Linked DNA regions of Homo sapiens. The protein of the gene in region 7 interacts with the protein of the main gene of each other region in a pairwise test. Each region holds a gene or a part of one and is shown on either strand. Other genes may lie near its edges.

The links.
Region 1: the proteins of SET (region 7) and MEOX2 interact in binary tests that used the Homo sapiens proteins (3 or more experiments, as listed by UniProt).
Region 2: the proteins of SET (region 7) and YWHAG interact in binary tests that used the Homo sapiens proteins (3 or more experiments, as listed by UniProt).
Region 3: the proteins of SET (region 7) and LMO3 interact in binary tests that used the Homo sapiens proteins (3 or more experiments, as listed by UniProt).
Region 4: the proteins of SET (region 7) and SPRED1 interact in binary tests that used the Homo sapiens proteins (3 or more experiments, as listed by UniProt).
Region 5: the proteins of SET (region 7) and ZNF438 interact in binary tests that used the Homo sapiens proteins (3 or more experiments, as listed by UniProt).
Region 6: the proteins of SET (region 7) and SGO2 interact in binary tests that used the Homo sapiens proteins (3 or more experiments, as listed by UniProt).

Annotation. Positions count from the first base shown.
Region 1 is NC_000007.14:15,679,849-15,684,557, reverse strand, and holds part of MEOX2 (homeobox protein MOX-2), read left to right. Parts: intron 1-2,577; exon of another isoform or gene 2,578-4,709. UniProt on the Homo sapiens protein: Mesodermal transcription factor that plays a key role in somitogenesis and somitogenesis and limb muscle differentiation. Required during limb development for normal appendicular muscle formation and for the normal regulation of myogenic genes.
Region 2 is NC_000007.14:76,347,783-76,352,491, forward strand, and holds part of YWHAG (14-3-3 protein gamma), read right to left. Parts: intron 1-4,709. UniProt on the Homo sapiens protein: Adapter protein implicated in the regulation of a large spectrum of both general and specialized signaling pathways. Binds to a large number of partners, usually by recognition of a phosphoserine or phosphothreonine motif.
Region 3 is NC_000012.12:16,595,266-16,599,974, forward strand, and holds part of LMO3 (LIM domain only protein 3), read right to left. Parts: intron 3,703-4,709; coding exon of another isoform or gene 3,630-3,702; exon of another isoform or gene 3,527-3,629; intron 1-3,526.
Region 4 is NC_000015.10:38,346,321-38,351,029, reverse strand, and holds part of SPRED1 (sprouty-related, EVH1 domain-containing protein 1), read right to left. Parts: intron 1,609-4,709; coding exon 1,507-1,608; intron 17-1,506; coding exon 1-16. UniProt on the Homo sapiens protein: Tyrosine kinase substrate that inhibits growth-factor-mediated activation of MAP kinase. Negatively regulates hematopoiesis of bone marrow.
Region 5 is NC_000010.11:30,849,771-30,854,479, forward strand, and holds part of ZNF438 (zinc finger protein 438), read right to left. Parts: intron 598-4,709; coding exon 1-597. UniProt on the Homo sapiens protein: Isoform 1 acts as a transcriptional repressor.
Region 6 is NC_000002.12:200,563,433-200,568,141, reverse strand, and holds part of SGO2 (shugoshin 2), read right to left. Parts: intron 1-4,709. UniProt on the Homo sapiens protein: Cooperates with PPP2CA to protect centromeric cohesin from separase-mediated cleavage in oocytes specifically during meiosis I. Has a crucial role in protecting REC8 at centromeres from cleavage by separase.
Region 7 is NC_000009.12:128,694,266-128,697,812, forward strand, and holds the end of SET (protein SET), read left to right. Parts: intron 1-375; coding exon 376-399; 3' UTR 400-2,131; downstream 2,132-3,547. UniProt on the Homo sapiens protein: Multitasking protein, involved in apoptosis, transcription, nucleosome assembly and histone chaperoning. Isoform 2 anti-apoptotic activity is mediated by inhibition of the GZMA-activated DNase, NME1.

The DNA.
Region 1 (4,709 bases), on a different chromosome or scaffold from region 7:
GCGTTACTATAGGATGGATTCTTCTCTCACGGTCTCAAAAGCTAACTTTTATTTTCCAAGGTCAGGGGGTGAACTTTTAATGTTCCATCACAAATTAGTTTTTATAAGAAAATTACCAGTAGTGTCACTGATATTTAATGTATTTTCCTAACTATAAGTGAAACTCTCTTTAGATAGTGAGTTGAAAGGTTAATCATAGCAAAAAGGTTTCAATTTTTATTAGAAAAACAGTCGATTTTAGAATGCAGTGACAATTTCATAAACTGAACATTTGATATCAGTGTAACTTTGGAAGCAGATCCCAGTTCGGGTTGATGAGCGTACTCTTGCAATTCCCATAAGCTCTTACGGTTCATTTTATTTCTTGCAATGAGAAACCTACATGATAGATTGTTCTTCATGCTTCCTGAACTGAGCCATTGCCCTTAAGTTTCTCAGGGCAAACAATTTTCATACAAGCACATGTTATTTTGTTTGGGGAAAACTGAGAAAACGGAATTCAATAACTGATTCCCTTAATTTATTTTAATAATTTTTTTAAAAAATGGAATAATTTAACAAAACTAATTTATCTCTCCCCCCCAACTTAGTGGGAAATAACCATTTAACAAAATTAAATTCATTTCTACATTTTGAAGCTGATAATGAGGGTACTGGAAAAACAAGCAAATATAAGTGTTTGTGTCAGCTACATAAATTATTAACAGATTAAAACTTCAGTGGAAAGTACAATTAGTCATCACCAAGGATAAAAATACTGGGGATTTAGAATGAGCTTTTCTTTCCTTTGATATGTTGAAGAAATATTGACTAAAAGGAAAATCACAATAGTTTCTGTTTAAATCTATGTACACTTATTGAAAATAAAATTTTATTTGCCAATTTCAGCTGAAGGTATATTTGTCAGATATTGAGATAGATTTAAATTAAAGATATCTTTCTCGTGTAACAATTGCATTAGGTGTTCCATAAATTATCTTCAAAGATATTTTATTTCATAGACATCTTGATCTAGCACAAACTAAAACAATATTGAAAATGATTATGATCCTGGTATGCTATTAATACGTATATCTCTCATTGCTTATAGCACATTTTAGTATTTCAATATTTCTAAAATATAAAATTGAAGTGATTTCGGAACTCCTGAAATTTAAAATTGTATTAGATAAAAATGTCATCCTATATAGTGAGATCATTTGTATTTTGTTAGGTAGTTTATAATTACTTTGCATTTATGGTTGAGAGAAAATTCAGTACATAAATCCAGGGTAAAGTCAGGACCAAAATTCTGTATCCCTGCATCTAATACTTAGACTGTATGTGTATGTGCTAATTCTAATTACCGTGTTAAATTCTAATAGAATTTTAAGCACCAGAAAGTATTGAAAAACAGCTTAAATATTTATAAACCTTACAATTTTATTCATAGTAACGATTTAAAACTATAATACGTAAGCTTCTCTAGCATATATTTTATGCACTTTCCCTCCACAAATGCACATGGACACACACATATGCAAACTCTAGCAGCTTCATGTTTTGGAAGCAAATATTTATGGACTTTAGGCTTCCTTTATGTAAGTTTATTGACAATTGAAAATAACCAAATTTAATAGAAAAACACACCATTATATTTTATATGTGTTAAACATTTTTGTAACTTTGAACCTGCTACGCTTTCCAGCATTATTAGCAAAGCCAACATCTGCCACGTCTTCAAAGGGACTCTTAAAAATCAAAACTTTACAACTGCTGAAAAAAATCACTACAAAGCAGGTGATTCTGAAAAATGTCTATAAATAGTGTGAATTGCTTGGCTTCAATTACATTTGGTTGCTCTTTGAGCAATCTAGTAGTAGGAATAAACTGCCCAGTTTTAGTTAAAATAACTAAAATTAATTCATTGATCGAACTTTAGCTTTTGTGCATGGTTATACAGTGTACATATCTAGATATTTTCTATTCAAATTTATGATACATATTTTATAAAAAATAGAAATTACATCAAAAAAGAAAAGAGCGATTTGGGGAGGTAGACTTTACTAGGTTTTGAATCATATTAGATTCTTGTAAAATTACAAATATTTTATTTATAGCTACTATGTCATAAAACCTTTGCTGTCAAATTATGTCTGTCTATATGCTTGACTATGCAGAATGACTAGCAAATATTACATTTAATAAGTTGGAACTTAAACTCAGAGTAATACCTTATCAACCTCATTCAGTATGATATTGTAATATTTCCAAGATATTTCAATCATTGTGTTTTCTGAAAGGAATAAATTAGTGTTATTATTCATTTCTGTGTTACTGGATTGTGGCTTTTCAGCATTTGCTTTAGAATTTAAAAAATAATATACTGGATCTTGAAGATTAAAGTGAAGTATTGAACAAATCAAATGGAGTACAAAAAAAAACTTCCATTCTTTATCTTGGACTGGTAGACTAATTTTAGGTGTGAACATTTAAAAATGGTAATCTGACATAAAAAATTCTAAGTATCATTGACCTACATGAGGGCTCTAAAATGTGATCTAAAATAATCACACTCAAGTTAAAAGCAACAATTCCTTTAGAATTAAAATGCTTTATTGTTGAACATTAGCAATGAATGGAAGGAAGAATGCAAATAAAAGTAGGAATAGTTTCCAATTCTGTGTAAATTTCTTCATTTATAGTTCATTTTAAAAGAAAAATCATAAATGCAAGGCATGGTATTGCACAAACTTTCACCGGGCTTAGAAATCCAGAACTTAGTATTTAAAGTTTTAATCTTTGTTTATGGTAATTATCAATAGAAACCTTTACAATGACATCTTATAAGCTGATCTTTACTAATAAACTGAAAAAACAGTACTTCAGTCATTACCCCATTCTCCCTCTGTGTTTCAAAACATAGACCGTTCATTATAACTCTGGAATTTAAGTTGTAATATTTATAATAAAATCTAAACATCCTAAGAACTTAATTTTAAGCAAAAATGAAATATCAGAAAATGTCAATCCTTTCTCTTAGATTCTGAGAAATTTGGGAGGTGAATTCCATATGTAATGAAATAATTACATTTTTTTTTGCACTTAAGAAATGTAAATCTATAGATGAATTAATAGCTGAATTATGTAAAACATCACCATATATAAGCCCACTACATGTACTTAGCCTGATAATGCTGCCTTGCTTGCGAAATTTTATTCATTTAGTGTTTTTATAATGGCAGCTTGACACACACAACCTAATATGAAGGTTTTTTAGATTTTAATTTCAAATGAGAAAAACCAATATAATACAGCAATATATTTTAGTTTTGAACTGTATTCACCTCAGGAATTTATTTCTAAATTTTCAGAGCAAATCTCTTTTCCAAGCACTGCTATGAGGGCTGCAAATATCTTTGAGCGATAAATACTAAGGATGCAGAAATATTAGAAAATAAATTACAGGTAGGAATTTCTTAAATAATATCTGTTGAATTAATAGTTGTGGATTATTTATCTCACCCAAATTTTCTTTATTTTTCTCACTTTTTTTTTTGATAAATGAAACATTTTGTGCAGGAAGATATATAAGCATTTCCCCCCTTGATTGTAATAATAAAAAGAGAAGGCTTAATTCTCAACTGGCCAGTTACATTGTATTTCCTGGCTTATAGTATTGGTAAATGATTTCAGTGGTTAAAATCAAAAGCAAAAAAATAAAATAAAACACAAACTAAGGCCAAAGTCCACAGATTAAAAATTGAAGTAGATGTGATTTATTTCCTATTTAGCATATTTAAGAAACAAGACACATTTTGTAGTCACAATTTGTTTCTACATATCATGTGCTTTAGATGTTAATATGGTTTACTGACATACATGTTTTGTAAAGATTGTAAATATAATGAGGCACTAACATTTTGCCTACTTTCCTTAGGATGCTCTCATGACTATTTCTTTTACTAGCGTGTTGAACTGAACCCCCAAGTAGAAAAGGAGTAACGGTGTAAAGTAAAGTTAGTTGCAAAACTCTCTACATTACTCCTAAATCACAGTCATCAGTGAGATTCAAAATCCCATTGGAGAAAACCTCGCAGAATATTTTATGTGTTTTAATGTAGTAAAACTTAGAATGGTCAAGAACATATAGGGCTCAGCCTACAATTTGCGTTAGAGGCAGAATTAATCTAAATCTGATGCCCATTTCTCTAACAGTTCTTCCCGTTTTACTTACATTATAAAAATATTGAATTTTTTAAAGAATGTTGTACTAGATAGTATTTTATGATACAAAATAATCAATAATGTATCTATTGATCCATTTGTGCTCATCTCAGATGTTGTTTTTATGTTTCAGAATAAGTATTTTCATTTAAAATCTCTTGACATTATTTATTACCAAATTAACAGAAAGTTACATGGTAAGTGTATGATCGAATGGGTTATTAATTTTCATGGGTCATGAGTGGGTTTTTAATTTTCCTCTATATTTGAAATTTTTGATATATAATTTCCGGAATAATAAGTAGCTCATTATTCCTGAAGCTTTCATTTATAATGTTACTTTGTGTACAGAAATATAATATTTCTAAATTTATATATGTTACTCACTACTAATTGTGCACTGTATTTTTAAATATTGGTTTTCACAGTGTTATGAAAATAATTTACATTTTTTTGGTTTCTTACATCACCATATGCACAAGAATGATCAGGTAGAATCCGTA
Region 2 (4,709 bases), on a different chromosome or scaffold from region 7:
CCCAGATCTGTTTCTTTTGAGTGAGGTATCTGCTTCCATTCGGTTCTGAGTGGTACCCTCATGCCTCCTGGCAATATCTCTAAGACTCCAAACAGCAAAACTACAGCACTTACCTCATGTTAAAAATCTCAAGCTCTCCTTTGTTAAATGACATTCAAAAAACACACTGCAATCGTGGGATCGAATGTTTTCTAAAAGAAACCGGGTTACACTTGTATTGAGTAATACATCTTTCAACTGTCCTAAAGGAAATGAGTTCTTCTGTATTTAAACCTAGATGACACGCCACCACCTCAAGGTTAACCAATGGAAAAATTATTAAATATGCAGCAGTTTAAAAGGATTTTCCATGCATCTGCAAGCAATGGAACATATGCTAAAATTAATTGAAAGAGATCAATTGAAACAACAGCTGGTATCCACTTTACCCATGACCCCTTTTCTAGAAAAAACAAAAACTTAAAACAAGAGCCTTAGACTTCGTTTTTTTTTTTTTTTTTTGGAGATAGCGTGTCGCCCAGGCTAGAGTGCAGTGGCACAATCTCAGCTCACTGTAGCCTGTCTCCCTGGTTCTAGTGATTCTCATGCCTCAGCCTCCAAGCAGCTGGGACTATAGGCGCACGCCACCATGCCCGCTAATTTTTTTTTTTTTTTTTTTTGAGACAGTCTCACTCTGTTGCCCAGGCTGGAGTGCAGTGCAAGCTGCGCCACCCCGGGTTCACGCCATTCTCCTGCCTCAGCCTCCCGAGTAGCTGGGGCTACAGGTGACCGCCACCACGCCCGACTAATTTTTTTGTATTTTTAGTAGAGACGGGGTTTCACCGTGTTTGCCAGGATGGTCTTGATCTCCTAACCTCGTGATGCACCCACCTCAGCCTCCCAAAGTGCTGGGATTACAGGTGTGAGCCACCGCGCCCGGCCTAATTTTTGTATTTTCTGTAGAGACAGGGCTTCACCATGTTGGCCAGGCTGGTCTCAAACTCCTGACCTCAGGTGACCCGCCCGCCTCCACCTCCCAGAGTGCTGGGAATACAGGCGTGAGTCAGCCAGCCTCCCAAAGTGCTGGGATTACAAACCATGAGCCTTAGACTTTGAAAAAAAAAATTTTAAGGCAAATTAAACATTTCCACCTTTAAAATCAGAAGATTATCACTTTATAAAACTGTTGTGAAATTAAATGGGAAAAGTACATAAAAATGCTTCCCAAGGTGACAGTAAACGTCAAACTATATTACAATATTTCATCTAAGTGTGTAATTTAAAAAATCTCGTCTTCCCGGCCGGGTGTGGTGGCTCATGCCTGTAATCCCAGCACTTTGGGAGGCCGAGGTAGGTGGATCACGAGGTCAGAAGATTGAGACCATCCTGGCTAACACGGTGAAACCTCATCTCTACTAAAAATACAAAAAGTTAGCCGGGCGTGGTGGTGGGCGCCTGTAGTCCCAGCTACTCGGGAGGCTGAGGCAGAATGGCGTGAATCTGGGAGGCAGAGCTTGCAGTGAGCTGAGATCGCGCCACTGCACTCCAGCCTGGGCGACAGAGCAGACTCTGTCTCAAAAAAAAAAAAAAAAATACCAAAAAGTACCGTTAAGTTTTCCATTGCGGTCCAGACGCGTTTTGGTCATCATTTATTAATACACACACACACACACACACACACAGACACACACACACACACACACACAGCCAGATGATGAAAAGAGAAAACCAAGATCAAAATGCAACAGGGTACCAAAAAATGAAAGTAACAGGTAGTTGTAATTCACTCAGCAAGTGTTTTTGAGAATCTACATGCCACAGCTCCAAATAATGTTGGTAGAAATACATTCTATGTAAGTTGTAAAAATTTAATCTGTTAATGATAGCTTTGTTTGAAGTTGTGCCATATTGTTTGCCCTTCCTCAATAAATAGATCAAGTTCCAAACATCTGAAGTCTTTTTCTACATGGCCAGCAAACGATGAAAAACAAAAACATGCCTGCAGGTGGATCACTTGAGGTCAGGAGTTCGAGATCAGCCTGGCTAACATGGTGAAACCTGGTCTCTATTAAAAATGCAAAAATTAGCCAGGCGTGGTGGTGGGCACCTGTAATCCCAGCTACTGGGGAGGCTGAGGTAGGAGAATTGCTTGAATCCAGGAGGGGGAGGTTGCAGTGAGTTGAGATTGCACCACTGTACCCCAGCCTGGGCAACAGAGCAAGACTGTCTCCAAAAAGCCATCTTCCAAATTGGTAAATAATCCCCGAGGAGGCCAGAAGAGTAAGAAAATACAGATAAAAGACCGATGTGCTGAAAAATGGTGAAGCTGGGTGTACGGGGGTTACTGTACTATTTGTCTTTATTTTGTATGTTTGAAAGTTTCCATTAGTCAAAGGGAAAAAAAAGGCAATCACTCCAAAGAAGCATAAGGGAGATGGGCCCTTGCCTCAAATAAGCTGGCATCGAGCCTACCCCTGCTTCAACCTCATTTTCCTTCCTAGAGGACAAAGGGCAATGGGTGCCTTTTGAATTCTGAAACATGTATACATAATACCTATTCAAACACATCTTTCAAAACTTTCAAGGTCCTGTACTAGTGAGGACCTTAAACATTATTCTTAGCTGGTTTTCCAGCAATTCCCCTCTTGGGTCTGTCTTAACGTACGAATTGTGCCTGAAAGATACCAGATACTCCTCCATGTACAACTCATTTATGGGGACATGACCATCCTAAGTGGAGGAGCTTACTGAATGCCTACTGCTTTTGCACCATCATAAAGTTGAAAAATTGTCAGGTTAAGGTCAGGCGCAGTGGCTCATGCCTGTAACCCCAGCACTTCCAGAGGCCAAGGCGGGCACATCACCTGAGGCCAGGAGTTGGAGACCAGCCTGGCCAACATGGGGAAACCCCATTTCTACTAAAAATACAAAAATTAGCCGGGCGTGGTGGTACATGCCTGTAATCCCAGCTACTTGGGAAGCTGAGGCAGGAGAATCGCTGGAACTCAGGAGGCAGAGGTGGTAGTAAGCTGAGATCGCGCCACTGCACTCCACCCTGAGCAATAGAGCAAGACTGTCTCAAAAAAAAGAAAAGAGAAAAGAAAAATCGTTAAGTTAAACCATCTGAAATCAGGGACCATCTATACCCACACATCAATATTATTTACAATGTAAATTTGGAAACAGCCTGAATACTAAGCAAAAAAATAATTAAATTATGATATATCCACAGGATTATTCAGCTACTGAAAATAATGACAGAATATCATTGAAATGATGTCAAGTGAAAAAAGCAAGGTGCAAAAGAATATAAACTGTAGAAAAAGACACGATGGAAATATCCCTGCATGTGAATCATTATGGTGATTCTTCTTGTCATTTCCCCCCGAAATTTCTAGCATCCTGAAAGGCCACCAACATTTTTGTCTTCAGTAGTCAATCCCATTGTTCACAGCCTTCCAAAGACTACAGACTCCCTTAAATAGGCATGGCATTCCAAGATCCAAGATATTCTAGAATATTCCTTCCCTACTCCCTTGTCCCCACTAGCTTTCCTCGCCTTGGAATGCCCTTTTCTGTTGTTCGTATTCTCCTCTCCTGTTCATTCTTCTCGCCTTTCTGAGTAGGGTCTTTTCAACCTAGTAGGAAAAATAACTTCCAGTCTTAACCTCTATTACACAGATACAAGACCCAATGTGAAGGTTTGAAAATAATAACATCTATTCTCTATAGTAGGGGTCCCCAACGGGTCCATGGCCTGTCACGAACCTGGCTGCAGAGCAGGAAGTCTGTCACTCCCCACTGCTCGAATTACCACCTGAGCTCCGCCTCCTGTCAGATCAGCGGTGGCATTAGATTCTCAAAGGAGTGCCAACTCTACTGTGAACTGCACACAAAAGGGATGTAGGCTGCATGGTCCTTATGAGAATCTAATGCCTGATGATCTGTCACTGTCTCCCATCACCCCCAGACGGGACCATCTAATTGTAGAACAAGCTCAGGGCTCCCACTGATCCTACATTACGGTGAGTTGTATAATTATTACATTACATACTACAATGTAGCAATAATAAAGTGCACAATAAATGCAATGTGCTTGATTCATCCCCAAACCATCCCCTTACCCCTCACCCCACCCAGTCCATGGAAAAACTGTCTTCCATGAAACGGGTCCCTGGTGCCAAAAAGGTTGGGGACCACTGCTCTTTAGCCTACCCAGGCCAGGCGGGCCCTCACATTATAACATACTGCCAATGAGTATGGGGTTATCCGCATGGCTACTCACTATGCTGCACCTCCACTGCAAAGACATGCTCACTGCTTCATGTTAGATTGCTACAAAAGCAGTCTGTATAGAAACAGTCAAAAATTCAAGCTGATTTCTACATTCTTAAAGAACTAGCACCATAGGCATTTTGTTTCCCAGATCTGGGTTTTTTAAATATGGTAGCTTTAGAGTCATATGAGTAATTCCTTTCAGACAGCTCAAGAAATGTAAATCATCTCTACGGCTTCAAAAGAAACCTGGCTTTTTAAAGCCTTCCCCTCGCTCCCTTAGCCATTCCTCACTTCCCTGCCCACGGCAGCTGCTCTTCATACTCAGCTTGCGGCAGGTTGGGGGTGGATCAGTGACTCCTCTTCAGCTACTGTCATTACGTGTTCAGCTGGCCACTGCTGTCACTGTCATACTCCCAACTCGGACACCCCTGCTCAGAGGAAAGCTGGGTACC
Region 3 (4,709 bases), on a different chromosome or scaffold from region 7:
AAAGCCACAAAAGTAAAATAATTATATTATTGGTAAATACTCATTTACTGAAAATGAATGCATTATAGAATTAAAGATAGAAAGATATTGCAGATAAATTTACCAATGAGAAGAAATTCTGTATGTGCAGTAAATATTTTTAATAGAAGTTGTTTGGGGGCAGTTTTTGCTCAGGAAGTCTAATGTGAATTCACCTACTATTTTCCAGAATGAGGGGCACTCTTCTGAAGAATTATCCAAAAAAATTATCACTCCTAATTTGTATTGGTTCAGGGTAGTATAAACGCTAAAATATTTAAAACAGAATTCAATAATGCTTCTTCTACAATAAAGGGAAAAATGATCTTAAAATTGTAACTTTTTATAAAGCTGCAAATAAGATAATTTTTAAGGAATATAACAGTATTTTTGTAACAGATATGGAGTTCAATATGCTCATGTCAAAATATTTCATAATACTAAAATTAACTTAGACATTCAAACATAAAAATTATGACAATAATATGGTGTTTAAAAGCTCAAATGAAGCTTATAGAAATAAAGCTTATTTGTAGAGTTCCATTTCATATAAAAGTTTATGCTTTCAGAATTTAGAACAGTAAAAAGTGGTTTTTCAAATAATAAGAATACATTGCTTTCCTGGAAAAATACTTCCAAATGATTATTAAAAAGATGACAATGAAAGAAAAAAGAATGAATATTGTATCAACATTAAAAAAGCATCTGTGCTATAAATTGCCAGATAAAATAATATTAACAACATATTCCTATTTACCTTTACACTTATAATTATGTACCAATATAAAGCTGACCTTACATAAAAATTTAGAAGCACCAGGTTTGATCAGCGTGAGATAAAGTTACAGCTAGATTTATGCCCTATGTGGCAATTTATTTTTATTTTCTCTTTTAGAGTTATTATATTATTATATTAAAGCCTATAAAATTTGTAGTCAGCATAGCAAGCTTCAAATCATTTTAGTTAATTAGCAACTATGGTGAAGCATGAAGCATCACTCTTTCCCAGTAGTTTCATTTTAAACAAATCATCCTCACGTATAAAAATAGCAAATTGCATTAAATTTTATATAAGACATTTTACAGCTTCTTATATAGGAAAAGCTATAAGCAGCTTCCATGGCACATACCACAGCAAACAGCTTTGAATAAACTCTGGCAAGATATCATTCATAGAGATACAAGATACATACAGCCTATATAGACTTAATGCTTAAAGTACGTCACAAAAAGTTGCAGGTTCAAAGAAAGAACAACAAAAAAATTGCCCAGAAGTTGAGTTCCAGTTACATTCTGACATCCTTTATTGCCTTCAAGTTGAAAAAGAAAGTATTTTGGTATTTCTCCTAGTTCTATTTAATGCTTGCTGCAAAACATTAAATAAAAGCATGTAGAATTCCTAATTCTAAGACTCTGATTATGCACTGGCTGGCTACTTTATTCATATTTTTTCAAACTGAAATAAGGCGGATAGATCGCAGTGATGAGTACCTTAAACATTATCACTACAACTTTGCTATTTTTACACAGTCATTTTTAATCTACTTTAGACAATATCAATTTTAAGCTCCAACTTAAAGTACAAAGATGTTTCTATATCTAATTTGTCATAAGTTACTCTTCAAAAAAATAAAAATAATTATAAATGCATTGGATAGATTTTTAACAGATACATTTCTTGGTCTGCCTGGCATATAAATATTGACTGGGTAGATTTCATAATTTCAGTCAGAAACATGTTAGAGGAAGTTTTAAAAAGTCAGTCCTTCTCTTTCTTTAGCTAATGAGTTTCCAAAGGAGGAAAGCAATCCCACAAATGGGCAAATTCTGTCTCATCAGATATGTACATTTTATGTTCCACAGCTAAATGAATGATATGCCAGTCCAGTTCTGGAAAGTGAAAAATTCCACTGTTAAGATTTGATACTTAGTGTACAAACTATGGAAGATTTTTCTTTCTTTTTCTCTTAAATATAGCTACTAGTGCCATAAAGGAGAAAAAAAATGGAAAGACATCAAATTTTCCATAATAATAGTTTCTATAACCCTTAAGAAAATATCTTACAGTCTAAATTATTATATTTTCATATTATTTAATATCTCAAATCATCATTCAAAGAACTTATAAATCACATCATCATTATCACTACTCAAAGTAACACAAGTAAAACACAGATCTTTAAGTCTCATTGCTCATAATTAGGAGTGTTTCTTTCTTTCTGTTTATGGAGGGAGAAGTGTATTAAGAAGCTAAATGTAATTGGCAAAAATATTTTACTTTTCACTGTATGTAAAAAATTATCTGGCCCAGGACAATACTTGTAACCAACAATATATGTGGACAGGCAAATTACTATTTTATTACTTTCCTTATTCTTACTTATGTTCTTAATAATTTAGACATGAAATATAAATATGTAAGTTATTTATGTTCAGTTTGGTGCCTCAGAGAAATTACATAATATCAAAGGGCCAAAAATAAAACAACTTTTAAAATAGAACTTAAGTGATTAAACATTGGTTATATAAAATACAAAATGGAAGTATGCTGAATTTGGAGGAAAATGAGAAAAATTACTTTTAAAGCTCAGGAAAATAACCACAGAATATTACTTGTTCACTGATTATATTACAGATTCTATGTAATTAAATAAACAATTAGATAGTGGCAACTTTAGGTGTACCTTCCTTTTTCCTTTAGCTAATTTCACCCATTGCCTGAAATCATACCTCTCACACAGTAAGCATTTAATAAACATTTTTGAACAACTATTTGTATCTAATCAAAGAAATTAATTTGTAAATAAAATCTGCTTGACTATATTTGTTGATTTACCATACAGAATCAGACTATTTTAATTTGCCAATCAGAGACATATGCAGTTGAACATCTACACAATTTCACTGAGACACATGCTTTCCACATAAAACTAAATACCACATCTGCGGCATAATCTATAACACGTAACACAGTGTTTTACACACACCAATTCTCCACTTCACTTCTGCAATTTTAAGTGTTGATGAAGTTGCCAAATAAGTCACATTATATACAACAAACTTTCAGTTTAAATAAGGGACAAGATTGCTGTTAACAACTTAGTTTGAAATGTTAACAACCGTTAGGCTGTTAACATAACAACTGGCCATTAATGTGGTAATGACCAATTTAAGCGGAAATCGTACTCTGAGAAATGAATATATTGGCAATCAGGACCAGGGTTTATATTTGAAAGAATATTATATACTTTTAATAAGTTAACCACCATTAAAAGTTTGAGCCTATCAGGAGGTAACTGAAAGTTATTCTACAAAAAGCCACATACACTCTTATAGAGATACAAAAACTTCTGATATGAAAACTATTTTTGATAAATGCGTTTTAGCAAAACACTTGAGACTATCAAATATATTTTTACTACCACAAGGAAAAAGAAAACAAAACAAATCTAAGATTACTGTCTTTGCTCGATGCTATGTTGACAGCTAAGAAGCATGTTATACTCACAATATAGGTATTTCCTTGGCAAATTTTTATTTTTGTTTTCAAAAACCCCAGATATTTCAGTTGACATTCTTTCAAGTTTACTTAATTTTTGTCCTTTGGTTTATTAAAACACCTTAACATTGCCCGGGCTATATAAACTCCTTATTTGAAATGGTAACATAAATCCACTTGAGATACTGAAATTACAAACAAATGTAAAAGTCAAAAGGAGTCAAAAAGCTATGACTATTGGTTAGTACAGATAAAGCAAAACTAAAAAGCAGTATTAAATCACTAAAAGCAAATACAAATGCTTTATGTGGAAATGAGGCTCTAATTCACAATGGGCAGAAGAGAAATTTTTATTTCAAAGAGGAAAGTTCAAAGACCGGAGAGTTCTAAAAAAATGAACATTGTACATTAATTTTGATTCGTTGTGCCAACACAATGAGGGAAATCCTGGCTGGAGAGAGTGACTTCTCATTGTTGGCACCTTGCATGTGTTTTACGCACTTGGAACACAGAGAAGTAGTAACAAGTGGCCATAATTAGTCAGGAGGCTGTCAGATGAGGCCGTCCTAAGAGCGAGAAGGAGTAGAATCTGATAAACAGTACCGCTTTCACCCTCTTGTAACTACCATTAATCAAATGATATATTTTTATATCTAAAGATTGGATCTGACTGAAAATAGCTGAATTATATACTAAGAACGACCAAATTCCCTAGAAAACACCTCATCAAATGACCAAGGTACTAAAGGAGTTACCATTGATTGATAAATTTTGTCATAAGGGAAAAAATTCCAAATAAATCGCTTAATGTCAGACCAGAAAAATGATAAATTGTATTAAATATGAAAATCCCAATGATGCCATATATCATTTCTCTAATTTGATAGATCCTACTTTATTAATATAAGTAATTTGCAGCTGAAGTAAGTCACAAAGTTGCCTGAAAAGCAAAATAATTTTCCTTCAGCAGAAATTCTGTGTTGAGTACTTAATGCTGGAAAACAAGCTTTAGTAGGCTTCATAGCTCCATAACCAAGAACACCTGCCTTGTCCTGAAAGCATTCAGATGTTTACAGGTTGGAGAGTGGCTGTCATTTTCCTATAATGATGGAGGTCTTTACTTTGTTATTATCCATAAAACTACTGGCAAGTCTGAGGCGGTTCAATTGCTTAGTTGTATTTTTGAGATTCC
Region 4 (4,709 bases), on a different chromosome or scaffold from region 7:
TTGATTTCAAAGGGACCTAAAAAAGAAACAGATAAAAACTGCAATGAGGGCTATGATGGTTAATTTTACGTGTCACCTTGGTGGGGCCAGTGTCCAGATATTTGTTGAAATATTATTCTGGACATTTCTATGATATGTTTTTGGGATGAGATCAACATTTCAGTTGGTGGACTATGAGGAAAGCACAGTACCTTCTGTGGTATAGGCGGACCTCATAAAATCAGTTGAAGGCTTTACTAGAACTAAGACTGAGCTCCCCCTGAGCAAGAAGAAATTCTGCCAGCAGGGTGCCTTTGGACTCAGACTACAACTATTTCTTGGGTCTCCAGACAGCCTACCCTGTTTTGGATCTGTACCTCTACTATTGCATGAGCCACTTACCCACACTTGATTGAAAGACGTTATTTAGATGAGATTTGGGACTTAAGAGTTGATGCTGGAATGGGTTATGTCTTTGGGGCTGTTAGGATAAGGATGAATGTATTTTGCAAGTGAGAAGGGCATGATTTTGGGAACAAAGGACAAAATGTTATGGTCTGACTTATGTCCTCTTCAAATTCATATGCTGAAGCCCTAACCTCCAGTAATGCGACTGTATTTGGATATAGAGCCTTTTAAGAGGTGACTAAGTTAAAATGTGGCCCTTAAGAGAGACTTTAATCCAATCTGACTGTTTTCTTTATGAGGAAATTTGGACACACAGAGAAAGACACCAGGGATGTACGGGCAGAGGAAAGAGCATGTGAGGGCAAAGTGAGGAAAGACCATGTGAGGGCAGCTACCTGCAAGCCAAGAAGAAAGGCCTCAGAAGAAACCAAACCTACCAACAACCTTGATCTTGAACTTCTAAGAATTGTGAGAAAATAAATTTCTGTTGTTGAAGCTACCCAGTCTGTAATATTTTGTTGTGGGAGTCCTAGCAAATTAATACAAAGACACACATGTGTGTAGCTTGGGTACACAAAAAGTCTCTGAACAATGACGTAAAATACCCCTACTTCCACAACCCTTCTGGGAAGGTTGGTTCTTTGAGGCCAAAGAACAAAATTAAGTCTTTTGACCCCTTACATCATCCATAAATGCAGGCTTCTAAGTAGACAAATTTGTATCTTTAGCTCCAGTCCCTGGACACAGTGACTAGTCTACTACAAGTAAGCATCTGACTCAGTTTGGGGCAAACTTCTATTTCCTAGATACATGGAATTAGGGCTAAGAAAATTCTAGGTCTGAGCTAAAGGTGGGGTGACAGATACAGTTTATTTAATTAACAATATATAATTCCTTTTGGTCCTATCTAATAAATGCAGCTCTGGCAATCTTTTAGACTCAAATGAGAAGTTTGCAGAGTTTTTAACTAACAGCGTTTAAGCACATAGGCAGCAAATTTATACAATGAAAAATTTTCTAGTACAATTCAACTATATGGAGAATTAGAAAGACTGGAAAACTTTACCTATCTATTAATTAGTTAAATTCCATATCACAAGATAAACTAACATTACTTACCCTATTTTGGGACTTTAGGCTTCCACATTCCTTGGATATTTGCCGCTGTACGTATTCCATACTTCTGCTCTGAATGTCCAAGCCTGGCTGACCAAATGTTATCTAAAATACAAACAATTTCTACTTAAATGACACAAGAATTTTACTTTTAATGAAACTGTACAGTGTATGTTCCAAAACCTCATAATTTATTAGCAGTAAAGTTTTTCAAAAACGGTTTTGAGAATAAAAATAGAATCATTTCCCCCCACCTAAAACACAAACAAAAACCATAGGTCTTTTCTTACATATTTAAACTTTAACAAGTAATGAATACATAGTCAAAAAAGTACAAACAACCCAAATATTCATCAACTAATGAACGGATAAACAAAATGTAGTAAATCCATAGAGTGGAATATTATTCAACCACAAAGAGAAATAAAGTAGTTACACATGTCACAATAATGGTTGCCAGGGGCTGGGAATAGGGAAGGAGGGGCAATGACTGATAATCAGTGTGGGTTTTTTGGGAAGTGATATGGAATTTGATACTGCTGATGGCTGCACAATCTTGTGAATATAATAAAAACCACCAAATTACATACTTTTTTAAAGGATGATTTTGTGGTAGGTGAATTATATAGCAATAAAAAAATAGGAATCTTTAGTGTCCTGATACATTTACAAGTGTTTCGAATTGCAAAGCCCATTTCAGACCTAAATTATAGCTAGAATATATCAATGTTTAATTTTTAAAATTTTATGGTGAAAAATTCTAATATACATAAAAGGAGAGAATAATGTTATGAATCACCATGGGTCTATTATCTAGCTTCACTTATCATCAACATTTTGGCAATCTTGTTTACTTCTTATTTTTCCAGATAATTTTGAGCCAACTCCTACTGTTACATACTTAATAAACACTATAACCCTGAAAATAAATAGTAATACATGCAGATAGCAAAATTTTCAAATAGTATAAAAGCACATGAAGTAAAACTCTTCCTTCCATCTTAGACCTTTCAGACCCAGTTTTAAAAGTTAACTATCATAAAAAAAATTTTTTAGTGCATTCCTCCAAAAATTTTTACACACACAGACACACACACACACACACACACAGATCTTTAAAATAGGACCCTTTGTACTGTGCCCTTGGTCTCTGCATTTAATGATACAATATGGAGGCCATTCTATGTTTATAAGTAGAATCTGTAAGAATTTAGAAATTAACAAGAGGAAATAACTATGGATTAAATGGTCTGGGAAGGCATGAAAGGAAATGCGACTTGAAGTAAACACAGAATAAGCTAGATATTTGGTCAAGTGAAAAAAAGAAAAACAGAAGAACATTACACAAAAGGAAGCAGAGAGAACAATTTTTTTTCCTGATAGAACACAATGACCTCAACTAGTATATTAAATATACATTTCTAAGAACTATTCTAAAGAGTAAAAATGTCAATTTTCTCACCACTGTCTCAGAAAAAAGTCACACACACCACTTAAACACATACACACTTTGAAAACTACCTGAGTCAACAGGGTCTATGAATATTAGTTCTCTCACACAATCTCTAAGTGAAAAGACAAATAAATGGACAATATTGACCTTTTCACACTTACTAAAAACAGATGTGATAAGATACACCCCAATTAATTTCTGCTTTTTAATACCCTCAAAATTTGGTACTTTTGCTATAATCTTCAGGAAAATTTATCAGCTGAAAAAGTCATAAGAGATGCTTCTTCAAAGCTGGTCACAATTAAAATTTTAAAAGGATTCCATTTATAATAGAACAACAAAAATGGTACAAAGAAATAATCCTATAAAATATGTATTATCTTTTCACAAAGAAAATACAAAGTTTTATGTAAAGATACAGAAGAAGAGCTAAACAGAGGTATATATCATATTCACGAATAAGATGATAAATTATCCCCTAAACTAACACACACATTCAGCGCAATTCAAATATAAACCACAAAAGGATTCTTCATCAGATTTGACAAGCTGATTCTAAATATTTTAAAAGGGCAAACAGCCAAATTGAAAAAAAAAAAAAAAAAAAAAAAAGATCCAAGCGGGAAAACAAAGTTAGGCACTTTCTCTACAAATATTAAGTTATTATAGAGCTACAGCATTTCTACAGTAAAGATGACAATGTGACACTAATTTAGATTAGAGACATCAGAAACAGACTCAAACATATATAGAGAATTGATGTGTCAGATATGGTACTGCATATCAGTGCGGGGAAAGGCTCCAATAAACAGTGCGGGGACAATTAGTAACCTATGTGGAAAAAATAAAATTTGGTCCCTACCATAGAAGAGAAATCAAATTAAAGTGGATTAAAGACAAAACTTTAAAACTTTTAGATTAGGAAGAAAATCTTTAAGATGAGGATAGGGAAGAGTCTGTAAAAATAATGAGAAATGATAAATTCAACTGCATTAAAATTTATAATGTCTGCTCACCAAAACACCACAAAGAGTGAAAAATAATCACCAACTAGGAGATACTAGCCACAAATAAAACTCAGAAAGATCTGAATCCAGAATATACAGGGAAGTAACACAGAACATTTGATTACCTAGTAACAAGGCCATATGAAAGCATGCAGTTAAAATCCATTTGTAAAGGAACAATCACAGTTATTTCCGAAGTCTTTCAAATACTCAATACATATCCCCTGTAGGTGGTACACATCAATCCTAAAGTCCAATTTGTCCCAGAACCTTCTGTAGCACATCAATGTAAAAAGTCCACTCCTGAACACTCCAAAGAAACTCATGCACATGAATAGCTGCGGACAAGAAAGTTTGTACTAGCAGTATGCCTGTAACAATAAAAACCTGAAAACAACTGAAATATCCAATTGGGAGAATAAAAAGAAACAAGTTTTAGAACTATCAAGGAAAGCATGAGAATGTTAGACAAATACAATTCCAGGTAATAGTTACCTCTAGGATGAAGGCAAAGGTATAGATTGGGGGTGTTCCTTTTTTAAGTTGTTTCGTGGTTTCTCAAGTATTCAGTGAATACATTCTTTTTTATGTATTAAACATGTCATAAATCTTTGAAATATGCTGTCATATTTGTCTACAGGGAAATGAACCCGTGAAAGTAAGAGAAACTGAGTTAAAGAACTATAATGGCTTCCAGGCCTATAAGACTTTGAAACAATGTATCTATCCATCCAGAGGATTTTTTT
Region 5 (4,709 bases), on a different chromosome or scaffold from region 7:
CATGGGTGTTGGTCACTGGTGGTCTCAAGTCCCCATGGTCACTTCCATTGGTCAGCGCAGCTGTGCTAATGCTGGCTGGGGCTTGCTCTAGTGATGGTACTTCCTCAAATGGACTGGGTTTGTACAGGAGTTCAGGGTGGTGAGGTGGGGAAGGGGACATCTGAGGACACATTTGGGTTTGGGCAGGAGCTTTGCTACAGCCACTCTTAGGAAAGATCAGGATGGGTTTCTTTCTTGATGCTTTGCTATTTCTAGGGGGTTGATATCTAGGAATAGGAAGTTTCAGGTTTTCAGGTAGGGACATTCTGGGTTTCTGAATTGGCTGAGCTGAGGCAACATGTGGCAGAGCAACAAGAGAAAATGTCCCCTCCTGGCCAGCAACCTGCATCAGGGCATAGTTCTGGGTGGACATCCCCAGCAGCTTGGAGTTGATGGAGGGTCCCAGATTCACCTGATCAGAGCGTGATGGTGAATGACATGGCAGCATTCTGGACGTTAGGACTTTGGGCACAATTTTTGGTGCAATGGTCCTAAACTGACTCTTATTCTGCAAACCTTTCCTACTCTGTATTGTTCCAGAAGGGATGTTTGATTCACCTGCAATGACAATAAAATATAAAGAGTTACTGTATGTAACTGTTCTGTTAGTGATACTTCAAACAACAAGCATCTTATTTACTCTGCCCAGAACAGATTCCTTGACCTACCTCCAAGCCTTCTGGGCAAAATCTTGTGTCCCTCAAGACCAGCTTGAAGATCAATTCCTGCCTACCTTCCCCAAGGATTTCTATACTTATCTATGGTTCCTTAGCTCCTATTATGTTATTTACCATTTTCCATAATAATTTATGTGTTTATGTGTATCTCTACTAGTCAACACTGCTTGACAGCGAAAATTCCGTCCTTCTCATCCATGTATTCTGCAAGTCCATCCTCTCCATTTAACCTATCCCCACTCATCTTCACATGATGTCTGGTATGTTCTGCTATGTAGTTTATTATTTTATATACATGTTCTGCTTTCCCTATTAAGCTTCAGCTTTGTGAGGGTACAGCCTATATTCATCTCATCTTGATATTTCCCACTGTATCCTTTGTATAAAACAAGCGCTTCTTGTATCAAACTCATTTTTCACTCAATCTCAGGATACACCATTTGACCCACTGGCAGTTGAATTTGTTTTGCACAGTGGATGCATTCCAGACTGAATGCTAGCTTTGTTGCTGTTTCCCCATGTGACTTACGAATTTCTTCTCACACCTTTCAAACTGTTTATGTGTGCTTTTGCAATTAAATCACCAGTATTAAAAAAGCTGATGTGACACCTTTAAAAAATGTTGAACAAAAAACAGAAAGATACAAAGTGATAAGTACAGATACAGAGACAACATGCAAAATATGTGAATGGCATAAAAAGCACCTTCTAGGATACTAATAGGAACAATTTTGACTGATAGGGTAACACTTCATTCTTTCTGGATTTATTAGCCTGACCTAAGATCAATTACTACTACCTTAAGAGAACAATTAAGGAAACATTTTGGTGTCCTGCTTCTAAAGACTGAATTATCTATTTTATTCTCTGAGGTCTCAAGGTCACAAGACCTGGCTGCAGAAATGTTTCTAATTTCTAAGTATCTCATATTAATCAAACTTCAATTCACATTTACTAGGCACCTACATTATTCCAATCATTATCCCAGGATTGGCTATTGCCAAGTCCACAATCCCTTTTCTGAAATTTTTGGAGGAAGATGTGGTTTGGAATTTATATTTTCAAATTTTGGAAAAGTAGTAAGATGCGTGTACTAAATGTTACATAACTCCCAGCGGAATCTGCAGGGCACCCATAATTGAACCTATTACCACTTCTGTAGCAAAACATGCAAATATTCGCAAGTTGGACAAATGAAGATTTTTAAATTGTCTTTATTTCAGTTCAAGTTTTTGCTTCTGAATGAGTTTGTAACAACTTTTCATAAACTTCTGTTTTCAGAGTTTTTTAGATTTTAGAGTTGGGGGTAGGGGACTGAACACTATCTGTTAGAGGATACAAGGTAGGTAGCAGACAATCTAGTGAAACAGACAATTGAAAATGTAAAATCAGCTGGGCACGGGGGCTCACGTCTATAATCCTAGCACTTTGGGAGGCTGAGATGGGCGGATCACTTGAGGTCAGGAGCTTGAAACCAACCTGGCCACGTGATGAAACTCTGTCTCTACTAAAAATACAAAAAAAAAATTAGCCAGGCATGGTGGCAGATGCCTGTAATCTCAGCTACTGGCGAGGCTGAGGCAGGAGAATCACTTGAACCCTGGAGGCAGAGGTTGTAGTGAGCCGAGATCGCACCACTATACTCCAGCCTGGGCAACAGTCTGAGCGAGACTCCGTCTCAAAAAAAAAAGAAAAGAAAATGTAACATCAACCTTGATTTTCTTTTTTCTTTTTTTTTTTTGAGACGGAGTTTTGCTCTTATTGCTTAGGTGAGTGCAATGGTGCGATCTCGGCTCACAGCAACCTCTGCCTCCTGGGTTCAAGTGATTCTCCTGCCTCAACCTCCCAAGTAACTGGGATTACAGGCATGTGCCACCACACCCAGCTAATTTTGTATTTTTAGTAGAGACAGGGTTTCTCCATGTTGGTCAGGCTGGTCTCGAACTCCCGACCTCAGGTGATCTGCCCGCCTCGGCCTCCCAAAGTGCTGGGATTACAGGCATGAGCCACCGCGCCCGGCCCGTCAACCTTGATTTTAATGCCTACAGTGAGTGAATTAACAATTTTAGCAGGAAGTTGATTCTTTCAGCAGAAATGACACCGCCTAAATAAACAAGCAACCTAGTAGAAATAAGGTGAAATTTATATTGACCAGTTTATTTTTAGAAAGTAATTGTTTTGCAAAGAAAAAGGACATTATGAAACATAAGTTCACAGGATAGCCTGCACGAGAGTAAGAAGTACAAGGACTAGTGAGTGCTATTGTCTGGAAAAATCAGACAAAGATAATTATGTTATTTGTTGTTTTCCTTCTGAGTTTGGTTACCGTGAATTCCGCTTATGGGTAAATTGAGTGGTAAATCACTTGACAATAGTCATCTGTATGGATTGCTACTTCTTCCTACATAATTTTAATTTTTAAGTTTTATTTTCATAGCCTTTAAATTTAAATGTTTTTCATTTTAAACCTCACCTTCTCATCTTTTTTTTTTTGGAAGAAGTACCAAAATAAGTCATAAATAAACACTTTAAATCAGGATTGAGAGACTTTGCAGAAAGCCTAAAATTATTGATGGCTTTTGGTTACTTAGAGATGTGGCTTAATAAATAATTACATTAACAGTAATAATGTTCTTTGCATTTACACAACAGATCTGGGGTGTGGAAGGAAGAGAAGAGAAAATATTGGGTCATTTATCACTAGTTCTTCCTCCTAACTGGGCAGAAAATATTTACCGCAAGATGAGCTAGAACAAAGGCTTAGTAATTCACCCTCTTGAAAGAATATGTGACAATAACACATCATAGCACAAGATCTATGACTTCCTCATCTCAAATCTGTCCAATGGCTCTTCATCTCAGAGTAAAGCCAAAATCCCTGCAATGGCTTAAAAGGCCTCATGCTTAAAAAGGTTCTCAGGAGCCTCTTTGACATATTTCCTCTACTTGCTCCACTCCAGCCATGGTGGCCTCTTTGCTGTTCTGGGCATGCACCTCCTGAGAGGAGGCTCCTGGCTGGGAGGAGCATTGGCTACTCCCGCCCACCCAAGACACTCTTCCCTCAGTAAATCCCCAGTACTTGCTGCATCGTTTCCTTCAAGGTTTTGCACAAATGGCTTCTTCTCAACGAGCATCTCCTCTGATGACCTTATTTAAAACTATATCCCATTGTGAACTCCCTGCTCCCTCTTCCTGTTTCATTTTCTCTAGAACATATGCTCCATTTATGGCCAGGCATGGTGGCATATGCCTGTAATCCCAGCACTTTGGGAGGCTAAGGCAGGCAGATCACTTGAGGTCAGGAGTTTGAGACCAGCCTGGTCAACATGGTGAAACCGTTTCTACTAAAAATACAAAAATTAGCCGAGTGTGGTGGCAAGTGCCTGTAATCCCAGCTACTTGGGAGGCTGAGGCAGGGGAACTGCTTAAACCTGGGAGGTGGAGGTTGCAGTGAGCTGAGATCATGCCACTGTACTCCAGCCTGGGCAACACAGTGAGACTACATCTCCAATGAATTAATGAATGAATAAATGAATAAAGTATCACATATAGGCCGGGCACGGTGGCTCACGCCTGTAATCCCAGCACTTTGGGAGGCCGAGACAGGTGGATGACAAGGTCAGCAGATCGAGACCATCCTGGCTAACATGGTGAAACCCCGTCTCTACTAAAAATACAAAAAAATTAGCTGGGCGTGGTGGTGGGCGCCTGTAGTCCCAGCTACTCGGGAGGCTGAGGAAGGAGAATGGCGTGAACCCGGGAGTTTGCAGTGAGCCGAAATAGCGCCACTGCACTGCAGCCTGGGTGACAGAGCGAGACTCCATCTCAAAAAATAAAAATTAATAGATAAAGTATCACATATACTGCCTGGCTTCCCTAGAATTCCTAGAGGACAGGGAGTTGGTCTGTGTCTTCAGGGCCTACAGTGTCCAGTACGTGACAGAGATTTACTAAATATTTGTTGAATTTTTAAAGTGGTAATAGAGTGATCAA
Region 6 (4,709 bases), on a different chromosome or scaffold from region 7:
CAAGAATAGATAATTATTAACAAGTGTTGGTGAGGAGATGGAGAAATCAGTGTCAAAATACTGTGCTGGCGGGAATGTAAAATGGTGCAGAAGCTTGGAAAAACAATTTGGCAGTTTCTCCAAAAGTTAAACACGGAGTTACCAGATGACCCAGCAATTCCACTGCTAGGCATATATTCAAGAGAACTGAAAATGTATGTCCACACAAAAATTTGTACATGAATGTTTATTGCAGCATTATTCATAATAGCCAAAAAGTGGAAACAATACAAATGTCCATTGATTGATGAATGGATAAACAAAACATGGTATATCCACACAACAGAATTATTGTCTCTCCATAAAAAGTAATGAAATGCTCATATGTGCTACAACATGAATGAACCTTGAAAACAATATGCTAAGTGAAAAAAGCCAGACACAAAAGGCCACATATTTTATGATTCCATTCATATGAAATATCCAAAATGGCCAAATCCATTTAGACAGAAAGTAGATTAGCAGTTGTTAGGGGCTAGGGGGGTGGAGAATGGAGACTGCTTATAGATATGAGATTCCCTTTTAGAGATTGAAATATTTTAGAAATGAACAGGGTGAAGATTCAAAGCTTTGTGAATATACTAAAACCACTGCACTGTATACTTTAAAAGGGTGAATTTCATGTGATAAGAAATTTTATGTTAAGTGAATTATATATCTCTATGTTTTTAAAAGTAAATACAAGAAAGGAAATAATTTAAAAATAGACACCAATGAAATATAAAACATAAAATTGAGAAAAATAAAATCAATGAAGCCAAAAGCTGAGTTTGTTAAATGAACAATAAAACTGACACACCTCTAGCTAGTTTGATTAAACATACAAATTACAAAAATCAGGAAAGAAAGGTTCTCACTACAGATGCTACAGGCATTAAAAGAATAAGAGAGGTTCCAAGATGACCAAATAGGAACAGCTCCAGTCTATAGCACCCAGCATGAACGATGCAGAAGACGGGTGATTTCTGCATTTCCAACTGAGGTACCAGGTTCATCTCAGTGGGGCTTGTTGGAGAGTTGGTACAGGACAGTGGGTGCAGCCCACGGAGTGTGAACTGAAGCACTGCAAGGCATCGCCTCACCTGGGAAGTGCAAGGGGTCAGGGAATTCCCTTTCCTAGCCAAGGGAAGCCTTGACACACAGCACCTGGAAAATTGGGTCACTCCCACCCTAATACTGTGCTTTTCCAACAGTCTTAGCAAATGGCACACCAGGAGATTATATCCGGCGCCTGGCTCAGAGGGTCCCACGCCCACGGAGCCTCGCTCTTGCTAGCACAGCAGTCTGAGGTTGAACTGCAAGGCAGCAGCCAGGCTGGGGGGACGGGTGCCCGCCATTGCTGAGGCTTGAGTAGGTAAACAAAGCGGCTAGGAAGCTTGAAGCCGGTGGAGCACCCTGCGGCTCAAGGAGGCCTGACTGCCTCTGTAGACTCCACCTCTGGCGGAGGGCATAGCTGAACAAAAGGCAGCAGAAATTTCTGCAGACTTAAACGTCCCTGTCTGACAGCTTTGAAGAGAATAGTCGTTCCCCCAGCCCAGGGTTTGAGATCTGAGAATGGACAGACTATCGCCTCAAGTGGGTCCCTGACCCCTGAGTAGCCTAACTGGGAGACACCTCCCAGTAGGGACCGACTGACACCTCATATGGCCGAGTGCCCCTCTGAGATGAAGCTTCCAGAGGAACGATCAGACAGCAACATTTGCCATTCTGCAATATTTGCTGTTCTGCAGCCTCCACTGGTGATACCCAGGCAAACAGGGTCTGGAGTGGACCTCCAGCATACTCCAACAGACTTGCAGCTGAGAGTCCTGACTGTAAGAAGGAAAACTAACAAAGAGAAAGGACATCCACACCAAAACCCCATCTGTACGTCACCATCGTCAAACACCAAAGGCAGATAAAACCACAAAGATGGGGAGAAACCAGAGCAGAAAGCTGAAAATTCTAAAAATTAGAGCACCTCTTCCCCTCAAAAGGAATGCAGCTCCTTGCCAGCCACGGAACAAAGCTGAATGGAGAATGACTTTGATGAGTGGAGAGAAGAAGGTTTTAGACGATCTGTAATAACAAACTTCTCCGAGCTAAAGGAGGATGTTCAAACCCATCGCAAAGAAGCTAAAACCCTTGAAAACAGATTAGACAAATGGCTAACTAGAATAAACAGCATAGAGAAGACCTTAAATGACCTGATGGAGCTGAAAACCATGGCATGAGAACTATGTGATGCATGCACAAGCTTCAGTAGCTGATTTGATCAACTGGAAGAAAGGGTATCAGTGATTGAAGATCAAATGAATGAAATGAAGCAAGAAGAGAAGTTTAGAGAAAAAAAGAGTATAAAGAAATGAATAAAGCCTCCAAGAAATATGGGACTATGTGAAAAGACCAAATCTACGTCTGACTGGTGTACCTGAAAGTGACGGGGAGAATGGAACCAAGTTGGAAAACACTCTTCCGGATATTATCCAGGAAAACTTCCCCAGCCTAGCAAGGCAGGCCAACATTCAAATTTAGGAAATACAGAGAATGCCACAAAGATACTCCTTGAGAAGAGCAACTCCAAGACACATAATTGTCAGATTCACCAAAGTTGAAATGAAGGAAAAAATGTTAAGGGCAGCCAGAGAGAAAGGTTGGGTTACTCACAAAGGGAAGCCCATTAGACTAACAGCAGAACTCTCAGCAGAAACTCTACAAGCCAGAAGAGAGTGGGGGCCAATATTCAACATTCTTAAAGAAAAGAATTTTCAACCCAGAATTTCATATCCAGCCAAACTAAGCTTCATAAGTGAAGGAGAAATAAAATCCTTTACAGACAAGCAAATACTGAGCGATTTTGTCACCACCAGGACTGCCCTAAAAGAGATCCTGAAGGAAGCGCTAAACATTGAAAGGAACAACTGGTACCAGCCACTGCAAAAACATGCCAAATTGTAAAGACCACTGATGCTAGGAAGAAACTGCATCAACTAACAAGTAAAATAACCAGCAAACATCATAATGACAGGATCAAATTCACAAATAACAATATTAACCTTAAATGTAAATGGGCTAAATGCTCCGGTTAAAAGACACAGACTGGCAAATTGGATAAAGAGTCAAGACCCATCAGTGTGCTGTATTCAGGAGACCCATCTCATGTGCAGCGACACACATAGGCTCAAAATAAAGGGATGGAGGAAGATCTACCAAGCAAATGGAAAACAAAAAAAGGCAGGGGTTGCAATCCTAGTCTCTGATAAAACAGACTTTAAACCAACAAAGATCAAAAGAGACAAAGAAGGCCATTACATAATGGTAAAGGGATCAATTCAACAAGAAGAGCTAACCATCCTAAATATATATGCAACCAATACAGGAGCACCCAGATTCATAAAGCAAGTCCTTAGAGACCTACAAAGAGACTTAGACTCCCACACAATAATAAAGGGAGACTTTAACACCCTACTGTCAACATTAGACAGATCCATGAGACAGAAAATTAACAAGGATATCCAGGAATTGAATTCAGCTCTGCACCAAGCAGACCTAATAGACATCTACAGAACTCTCCACTCCAAATCAACAGAATATATATTTTTCTCAGCACCACATCACACTTATTCCAAAATTGACCACACAGTTGGAAGTAAAGCACTCCTCAGCAAATGTAAAAGAACAGAAATCACAACAAACTGTCTCTCAGACCACAGTGCAATCAAACTAGAACTCAGGATTGAGAAACTCACTCAAAACTGCTCAACTACATGGAAACTGAACAATCTGTTCCTGAATGACTACTGGGTACATAACGAAATGAAGGCAGAAATAAAGATGTTCTATGAAACCAATGACAACAAAGGCACAACATACCAGAATCTCTGGGACACATTTAAAGCAGTGTCTAGAGGGAAATTTACAGCACTAAATGCCCACAAGAGAAAGCAGGAAAGATCTAAAATTGACACCCTAACATCACAATTAAAAGAACTAGAGAAGCAAGAGCAAACACATTCAAAAGCTAGCAAAAGGCAAGCAATAACTAAGATCAGAGCAGAACTGAAGGAGATAGAGACACAAAGAAACCCTTCAAAAAATCAATTAATCCAGGAGCTGGTTTTTTTGAAAAGATCAACAAAATTGATAGACCGCTAGCAAGACTAATAAAGAAGAAAAGAGAGAAGAATCAAATAGATGCAATAAAAAATGATAAAGGGGATATCACCACCGATCCCACAGAAATACAAACTACCATCAGAGAATACTACAAACACCTCTATGCAAATAAACTAGAAAATCTAGAAGAAATGGATAAATTCCTGGACACATACACACTCCCAAGACTAAACCAGGAAGAAGTTGAATCCCTGAATAGACCGATAACAGGTTCTGAAATTGAGGCAATAATTAATAGCCTACCAACCAAAAAAAGTCCAGGACCAGATGGATTCACAGCTGAATTCTACCAGAGGTACAAAGAGGAGTTGGTACCATTCCTTCTGAAACTCTTCCAATCAATAGAAAAAGAGGGAATCCTCCCTAACTCATTTTATGAGGCCAGCATCATCCTGATACCAAAGCCTGGCAGAGACACAACAAAAAAAGAAAATTTTAGACCAATAACTCTGATGAACATCGATGCAAGAATCCTTAATAAAATACTGGCAAACCAAATCCTGCAGCACATCAAG
Region 7 (3,547 bases):
CTTATCACCACCCAAGCTTGTTTTTCCCTAGCCAGTACTTAGGCAATATAGGCAGTGTAGCTGGTCAAATTCTGACATCTCTGAAATAACAAAGTTTCATGTATTTTCGACAAACTGCACAATTTCTGAATAGTCAAATTAGGATAGGTTGGTTTTATTTCGGATTATTTGATCCGAAATATACCTGATTTGGTTAGAACTGAAGTTACTAATTAATCTGAAGCAACATCATCACGGGTGTTTCCTTCGATGCAGCTGACTTACAGGTTTAGAAACTGGAGTGCCCCCAGGGGCACTCGTGGGGTCCATTGTGGTCCATATGAAAGCAAGTCTCAGCATTAATCCTGAAGATTAACTGCCCACTTTTTCTTTCAGGAGGATGAAGGAGAAGATGACTAAATAGAACACTGATGGATTCCAACCTTCCTTTTTTTAAATTTTCTCCAGTCCCTGGGAGCAAGTTGCAGTCTTTTTTTTTTTTTTTTTTTTTTTTCCCTCTTGTGCTCAGTCGCCCTGTTCTTGAGGTCTCTTTTCTCTACTCCATGGTTCTCAATTTATTTGGGGGGAAATACCTTGAGCAGAATACAATGGGAAAAGAGTCTCTACCCCTTTCTGTTCGAAGTTCATTTTTATCCCTTCCTGTCTGAACAAAAACTGTATGGAATCAACACCACCGAGCTCTGTGGGAAAAAAGAAAAACCTGCTCCCTTCGCTCTGCTGGAAGCTGGAGGGTGCTAGGCCCCTGTGTAGTAGTGCATAGAATTCTAGCTTTTTTCCTCCTTTCTCTGTATATTGGGCTCAGAGAGTACACTGTGTCTCTATGTGAATATGGACAGTTAGCATTTACCAACATGTATCTGTCTACTTTCTCTTGTTTAAAAAAAGAAAAAAAAACTTAAAAAAATGGGGTTATAGAAGGTCAGCAAAGGGTGGGTTTGAGATGTTTGGGTGGGTTAAGTGGGCATTTTGACAACATGGCTTCTCCTTTGGCATGTTTAATTGTGATATTTGACAGACATCCTTGCAGTTTAAGATGACACTTTTAAAATAAATTCTCTCCTAATGATGACTTGAGCCCTGCCACTCAATGGGAGAATCAGCAGAACCTGTAGGATCTTATTTGGAATTGACATTCTCTATTGTAATTTTGTTCCTGTTTATTTTTAAATTTTCTTTTTGTTTCACTGGAAAGGAAAGATGATGCTCAGTTTTAAACGTTAAAAGTGTACAAGTTGCTTTGTTACAATAAAACTAAATGTGTACACAAAGGATTTGATGCTTTTCTCTCAGCATAGGTATGCTTACTATGACCTTCCAAGTTTGACTTGTATAACATCACTGTCAAACTTTGTCACCCTAACTTCGTATTTTTTGATACGCACTTTGCAGGATGACCTCAGGGCTATGTGGATTGAGTAATGGGATTTGAATCAATGTATTAATATCTCCATAGCTGGGAAACGTGGGTTCAATTTGCCATTGGTTTCTGAAAGTATTCACATCATTTGGGATACCAGATAGCTCAATACTCTCTGAGTACATTGTGCCCTTGATTTTTATCTCCAAGTGGCAGTTTTTAAAATTGGCCTTTTACCTGGATATAAATTAATTGTGCCTGCCACCACCATCCAACAGACCTGGTGCTCTAATGCCAAGTTATACACGGGACAGTTGCTGGCATGTCTTCATTGGCTATATAAAATGTGGCCAAGAAGATAGGCTCTCAGTAAGAAGTCTGATGGTGAGCAGTAACTGTCCCTGCTTTCTGGTATAAAGCTCTCAAATGTGACCATGTGAATCTGGGTGGGATAATGGACTCAGCTCTGTCTGCTCAATGCCATTGTGCAGAGAAGCACCCTAATGCATAAGCTTTTTAATGCTGTAAAATATAGTCGCTGAAATTAAATGCCACTTTTTCAGAGGTGAATTAATGGACAGTCTGGTGAACTTCAAAAGCTTTTTGATGTATAAAACTTGATAAATGGAACTATTCCATCAATAGGCAAAAGTGTAACAACCTATCTAGATGGATAGTATGTAATTTCTGCACAGGTCTCTGTTTAGTAAATACATCACTGTATACCGATCAGGAATCTTGCTCCAATAAAGGAACATAAAGATTTTTTTTGGACTGGGGTCATTCTCCTTGTTTTATAGAGAAATGTTACTTGCTATTGGATTCAGAAATTGTTCTAGTTTTTTGTCTTCACATCGTTAGTGACTGGGGAAGCGTGGGTTAGCGCTAATGGTATGACATTGGTTTAGAAAGCTTTGAGCTGGTCGGTGTCCGAGTAAAGGACAAATTCAAATATCTTACTTGGATACAGTTTCTGAGTAAACAGTTTCTGAGAGGGTGAGTATAGCATTTTCATTCTGAAGTCTCAAAAGGACTTTTCACTAGGAAGAAAATTGAGTACAGTGGGTCCTGTTATCTGCAGCTTCAGCTACATGTGGTCAACTACAATTCAGATACTTTGAGACTACATTCACACCTATACTGTATGTTAAATGTGTGAATGTATAGTTATAGTATACAATAGTCAAAATTATCCTATACCGTTAATCTCTTACTGTGCTTAATTTGGAAATTAAGTTTTATAGGCAGGTACAGGAAAAATTGTATGGGGCTTGATACTCCTGTGGTTTCAGGCAGCCACTGGGGCATCTTAGAATGTATCTCCTTTGGATAAGTGGGGCTACTGTAGTCATTTGAATCAATATCCACAAGCCTGTGATAACTTTCTCACAAACTTAACAGTGAAACTTAGCACAACTAGTGGTTTTACATGCTGGTGAGCGTCTAGGGCTGTCAGGTTATAGGTCACAATAACGTTTATTTTCGGGAATGTAAAAAATCGGGAGCCCTTTAAGGTAGTAGTAGTTCACTCAACTATTGTGATCTCCTGAGGTGCCACTAATATCTGCAAATCTTGTAAGAGAACTAGGCTGTGAGAAAACAAAATGGCAACCTTACTGTACCAAAAACTTCCATACACAGTAGCCAGCATGCCTTGTGTCCAACTGCAAGACAAGTTCTTGGGCTGGTCTTTAGTGTGTATTGGAATGGGCTCAGCTCCTTTTCTCAAGGACATTTGAAAATAGAAAATAGAAGTTGGGCACAGTGGCGCATACCTGTAATTGCAGTACTTTGGGAGGCCCAGGCTGAAGGATCGTGTAAGTCCAGGAGCTCTAGGCCAACCTGGATGACAGGGACATCCCAACACTACCATTAAAAAACAAACAAACAAAAAAACAGGTGTGGTGGCGCTAGGCTAATCCTAGCTACTTGAGAGGCTGGGGCAGGATTGCCTTAGCCCAGGAGTTTTGAGGCTGCACTGAGCTATGAGTTTGCCACCGTGCTTCAGCCTGGGCCACAGAGCAAGAAGACCCTGTTCAAAACAAGACAAGAGTAATAATGGCTGTTTAGGAAGGGGCTGTGTTCCCAAGCTGTGCTGTATTTGGTTTATGAGGGGTATTTAATAACTGCATGAATTAGGATGGAGGGCAGTAGCTTGCAAGATGTCCTTACATCTAGTTTCAAAACCTT